Linked DNA regions of Homo sapiens: region 2 is linked to region 1. Evidence: fine-mapped expression QTL. A gene starts in region 1. The other region holds a variant in brackets. All regions are shown on one strand. Distances are between the middles of the regions.

Region 1 (2,914 bases):
AAGAGAAATCCAGGTGACTGTATTTGTTAAATGAGTAACAAAAGGAAAAACAATGTAAAGAAACAGAAAGGAAAGGAAGAGAGAAATACAAAGATCTGAGAAGAGAAGGTGCCAGGGGCCGCTGAGAGATTGCCAAATGTTAATTTCATTATTTGGCTTCTTATTTTATTCTGGGTAAAGGTAGACCTATTAGTTTCCTGTTGCTGCTATAACAAATTACCACCAACTTAGTGGCCTCGAACAATGCAAATTTATTCTTTCAAAGTTCTGGAGGACAGAAGTCCAAAAATGTGTCCTATCAGCTGAAATCAAAGTGTTGTGTTCCTTCTGGAGGCTCTAAGGAGAATCTGTTCCTTCTCTTTTCTAGTTCTAGAGGCCATCTGCGTTCCTTGGCTCATGTCCTTCTTTCAGCAATGGCATCATCACTCTGACCTTTGCTTCCATTGTCACATCTCCTTGACTCTGACCCTTTTGCCTCCCTCTAATAAGGCCCCTCTGATTACACTGGGTCCACCAGATAATCCAGGATAGCTCTCTGTCTCAAGATCCTTAATTTAATCATATCTGCCAAGGGTTTTGTTTTGTTTTATTTTGTTTTTGCCATTTAAGGTAATATATCCACAGGTTCTGGCAATTAGGTTGTGGACATCTTTGGGGCGACAATTCTCAACCTACCATACAACCGGTACATAAGGTTCTACTACCTACTAAATGCATCATAAACAGAACTTCTGATCCTTCAACAACTCTGTGAAATATATGACAGGATTTGCTTTTAAAGTTGAAGAAATCAGGCCTTGGTGCAATTTGGGATTCTGCCCATGGTCAAATAGTGGGGAGGCAAACCCAGGTCCCTGAACCCAGCTCAAGCCTGCCTGCCTCATGGCCATGCCTCCATTCACCTCTCCCCTTCATGTCTACTTCCTCTTTCCTGTCTGGGCCTGTTCCCTAGCTCCCTGGACAAGCTTAAGCTGCTGTTTTCCAGCTTGTCATGTGCTCCTTATGACAGTGTAGCCACAGCTTGATCTTGGGGATTGCTGATTGAGCAAGCTGAGTGGCTGCCCCTCAGAATCTTCTGTAGGCCTTTCTCTTGCCTTCTTTTATTCAGTAAGTGTTTTGAGCTTATTGTGCTGGGTGCTAGAGTAGCAGGGAGGACAGACCTAAGTTGAAGATTACGGGACAATCTAAGTGACACCTGCTATCTCAGACAGAGACTTCAGCATCATAGGGAGCCAGAGCAGGGAGTTCCAAGCCGTGGGAACTGTGACTCTTTCTTACTGACCCTTAAGCAAAATTCTAAGCTCCAGGGAAGCAGAGGCAGCAGCTTGAGCTCCCTGATTGACCAGATATGATTAATCTTTGTTTCTCTGTGCTTTGAACATGACTATGCTCCATAAATATTTAAAAATTGGGAATAGGGTGAAGATAGATACACCAAAAGGAGCAAGCAGTGTCTGAAACCAGCAAAGACTTAAAAGTTACCGAAGAAGGTGTTCATGCTTTCATTTTATCTTTTTTTTTTAACCTAGCAACTGATGACACTGCATATCTTCCCCTGTTCTTATTGGGAGAAGGCCTTGTGTGTCACCAAGAGGTTCTCAGAAGGGACCTGTCAGTTTTTGGTTAAAAGAACCCGGAAAGAGAAGGACTATGGGGGAACTGATGGCGTTCCTGTTACCTCTCATCATTGTGTTAATGGTGAAGCACAGCGATTCCCGTGAGTATCCCACGTCCTCTTCTCTCCTAACTCCAAAGTCGAGGCAGCCTAGAAGGCACAGCTTTTCTTCCTAAAACTTGTGGTGAAAAATATAGAAGCCAGGGGCAGAAACGTGTATGTATTACACTCAGACTCCAGGAGCAATGGATTGCCTGAACAGTTTCCCAGTTCATATTTGTAGGATTTTGATGTCACCACCTTCTGAGGGAGGGGGAGCCGTTCTAGAAAGACTCTGGAACTTCCTCACTTTCCCTCTGAGCATGGCCTCCTTTCTTTTCTGCTCATATTTTTTCTTTTACTTTTGTTTCTCCTCTTTTCTAACTTCCAGAGTCTCATGAGGATGTAGTCAGAGTTTCAGGGGCATTAACAGTGGAGTAGATCCATTGTTCAGGTTTATTTATGTTTTTCCTCAACACAAGCCCTACCTGTAATAAAAGATCCAAGAAAGATAAAACCATGGCTCTGGGTTTGTTTACTGACTGTGAGAAGTATTAATCAAGTAGAAGGGAGAGTTTTTCATTATTCGGGGAGCTCAAGTCACTGGGGAAGCAAATGCCTTCTGTTGCCTCAAATAGGGGAAAGGGCCCATGGGCTAGAACCACCAGGCTTCTCTGCCCTAATCACTTGCTCCCTGGGCTGAGGACTGGTACTGGTGGGCAGTGTCCAGAACTTAGACTTGGCCACCACCATAGGTGTGACTGATGAACATGAGAGGAAGGAGTTCTTTCAAATCACCCATGCACATAGAGAGTGGAATGACTGACCATGGAGATTTGGAAGGGCGAGGGGGGTGGATGATTAGAAATTACTTAATGGGTACAATGTGTGTTACTTGGGTGATGGATACCTTAAAGCCCCAACTTGACCACTACACAATCTATGCTATAACAAAATTGCATGTGTACATCATAAATTTATACAAATAAAAAAATTTTAAATCATATGGCTGGGAGTGGTGGCTCACACCTGTAATCCTAGCACGTTGAGAGGCCGAGGCAGACGGATCGCTTGAGGTCAGGAGTTTGAAACCAGCTTGGCCATCATAGTGAAACCCCATCTCACTAAAAATACAAAAAATTAGCTCGGCACACCCATCTCTACTAAAAATACAAAAAATTAGCTGTGCACAGTGCGCACCTGTGATCCCAGCTACTCGGGAGACTGAGGCAGGAGAATCACTTGAACCCAGGAGGCGGA
Region 2 (2,914 bases), 22 kb after region 1:
ACCAGAAGTTTGGTTTTCCTTCATAGACATAGACCTCAACTCCAATTCAGGTGATAACTGTACAAAAGCATGTTGTTAGATCAAAGTAAAACCAACCCTTTTACTAGAAAATCAGCTCAGAGGCCGGGCGTGGTGGCTTACAACTTGTAATCCCAGCACTTTGAGAGGCCGAGGCAGGCGGATCACTTGAGGTCAGGAGTTCGAGATCAGCCTGGCCAACATGGTGAAACCCTGCCTCTACTGAAAATATTAAAAAAAAAAAAATTAGCTGGGCGTGGTGGCACATGCCTGTAATCTCAGCTACTCAGGAGGCTGAGACAGGAGAATCGCTTGAACCTGGGAGGCGGAGGTTGCCGTGAGCAAAGATCGCTCCATTGCACTCCAGCCTGGGCAGCAAGAGCGAGACTCTGTCTCAAAAAAGAAAAAAGAAAAGAAAAGAAAAGAAAATCAGCTCAGAGAGTTAATGGGTTGTTAATGTTTTCTTTATAGATAAAGTACAGCACTAATCCTAATCCAATAAATGATAGTGAAACAAACAAAAAATTTTTTTACAATGACATCCCTCTCTCAATAATTATACAGACTGTGAGTTCCTGCTTTTTATCTTATAGAGTTTACAAATTTGAGCTAAAGTTTGTCAAGTACTAAGAGAATCTTGACAAAGCAAGCTAAAACTGTCGATGCCTGTTTCTCAGATTTTGCTGAACACTGCATACTTTATTTTTGAGCTGTGAGGAAACATTCTTGTAATCTGACTAAAAACCCCTTTCCTTTCAGAGCAAAATGGAGCCATCTACCTTCCAACACCAGATCGATGATTGCAGATCCCTCTTTTCCAGTTCTCCTTCCTCTAGGAGCCATGTTATCCTCTGTCCCCCATAGAGTCAAGCCTAGTGCTTGAAGGTCCTGACGACACCCACAACATACATGAGAGTAATGGGATTGAGCATTTATGGCAGCAACAGAGGAGCCACAAAATGTTCTTTGTTCTTTGGCTCCAAAAAGACTGTCAGCTTTCAGTCTCTTTTGATGGACTGTTTTATCAGAGTTGACTTTAAATACAGCTTGTCTCATGACACAACGCTTCCCTACATTCTATTTGTCAATGATGATTTGCAACTAGTTGGAGATTCTCAGAGCAGGAAGGAATCTTTTCAACCAGAGCAGGAACTGTCTTCTGCAATGCCTTGGACTTGAGCCTCCAGCCTCCACTTGAACACCATGTGAAGGGAACCTCAGTACTTCATAAAATGGCCTTTCTCATTCATCTTTCATGGGAACATTTATTGTACAAGCGCTTTGAATATCATGGGCACCATGACTGTGACCCTACAGGTAGGATTGGATCACTCCATGAGAGTAGCCGGCAGGTTTCTACAATGGCCTGGGAATGGACTGATTATTTTTATACATTTTCTGGCCTGAGAGAAAGCCAAAGTCCCCTGCTGTTCACAGCAACCCTGCCTGGGAGCTTGGAATCTTGGTAATCTGCCCGGTTGGATCTATGGAGGTAGTCTCACCCTTTT[T/C]GTCTTTTGTGGGAAATTAAGAGAAATAATTATCAGACATATCATCACCTCCAGTGGAACTACAGAGACCTGGACCCAGCTGCACTATTTTAATGTAAAAATAACAGTATGGCCAGGTGCAGTGGCTCACGCCTGTAATCCCATCACTTTGAGCAGCCAAGGCGGGCGGATCACGAGGTCAGGAGATTAAGACCATCCTGGCCAATATGGTGAAACCCTGTCTCTACTAAAATACAAAAAATTAGCTGGGCATGGTGTTGCGTGCCTGTAGTCCCAGCTACTTGGGAGGCTGAGACAGGGGAATTGCTTGAACCCGGGAGGCAGAGATTGCAGTGAGCCGAGATCACGCCACTGCACTCCAGCCTGGCGACAGAGTGAGACTCTATCTCAAAATAATAATAATAATAATAATAATAATAATAATAATAATAACAGTATATTTGGTGTCAGGAGAGGGCTCAATTCTCATTTCTGCCTTTCCTGTGCTGGCTCATGGTAGCTGGGCATGACTTGCCTTCCTACATAGGTTGTCTTCATACATATGCACTGGGAATCAATAAAAGCCCATGGTGAGAATGAACATCCCCTTAATGTTCCTTACTATCCCCAACCCCTGAGGCCTCACCTACTGCCCTGCCATGTGGAGCTACTTGCCCTGGGGCTGCCAGTCACACATTCCTCGGTCCTACTTCTCTGACCCCGTTTGACTCTGCACCTGAGCCCTAATGCTTACTTCAGTGACCTGAACTTTGACAAGTGGCTTTTGTCCTGCACCTCAGGTTTGACCTCTGCTCTCCCTTGACCTTGACTGTGACATTTGACCTTTGGCTTTAATCATTACAGCCTCAGATAAAGGTACCTTCAGCCCGGGCACAGTGGCTCACGCCTGTAATCCTAGCACTTTGGGAGGCTGAGGCAGGCGGATTCCCTGAGCTCAGGAGTTCAAGACCAGCCTGGGCAACACGGTGAAACCCTGTCTCTACTAAAATACAAATAATTAGCTGGGCATGGTGGCATGTGCCTATAGTCCCAGCTACTTGGGAGGCTAAGGCAGGAGAATCACTTGAATCTATAAGGCAGAGGTGGCAGTGAGCCGAGATCACACCACTGCACTCCAGCCTGGGCAACGGAGCAAGACTCTGTCTCCAAAAAAAAAAAGAAAGATACCCTCAGTGTGCCAGGCCTCTAAGAGCTCACCTGCCAGGCTTCCTCCTTGCTCCACTGTCCCATGTAATTCCATATATGAAGCTACCACTGTACATCTCTCTTTTCCGGTGCCTGTTGAGTTGCATAGAAGCACAGTTGTGTTTATTTTGTTTTTAGGGTTGCCATGGGCAATTTCCGTGCCACTTTTAAGCAGTGTTGCACTGTGAAGAGAATGTAGGCAA

Alleles and levels. Alleles are on the strand shown, and positions count from the first base shown. SD is a standard deviation of normalised expression in the study named.
For the expression in monocytes of the gene that starts at base 1,626 in region 1, allele C in region 2 goes with a lower level than allele T (large effect, 0.93 SD a copy in Kim-Hellmuth 2017).

What was found. PIP is the estimated chance that this variant, and not a neighbour inherited with it, causes the effect.
Region 2: its variant is fine-mapped to the expression of MR1 in monocytes (Kim-Hellmuth 2017, PIP 0.95).

The regions. Positions count from the first base shown.
Region 1 is chr1:181,032,358-181,035,271 of GRCh38, forward strand. MR1 (major histocompatibility complex, class I-related) reads left to right here and starts at 1,626. Exons shown (of 6, transcript NM_001385161.1): 1 at 1,626-1,717. The coding sequence starts at 1,651. RefSeq lists enhancers at 806-995, 1,196-1,295, 1,426-1,535.
Region 2 is chr1:181,054,448-181,057,361 of GRCh38, forward strand. It overlaps MR1 (major histocompatibility complex, class I-related), which reads left to right. Exons shown (of 6, transcript NM_001385161.1): 6 at 778-2,914. The coding sequence ends at 818. Among named protein-coding and RNA genes, the nearest start is that of MR1, 22 kb to the left of the region's middle. The variant T/C (reference allele first, on the strand shown) is at 1,527.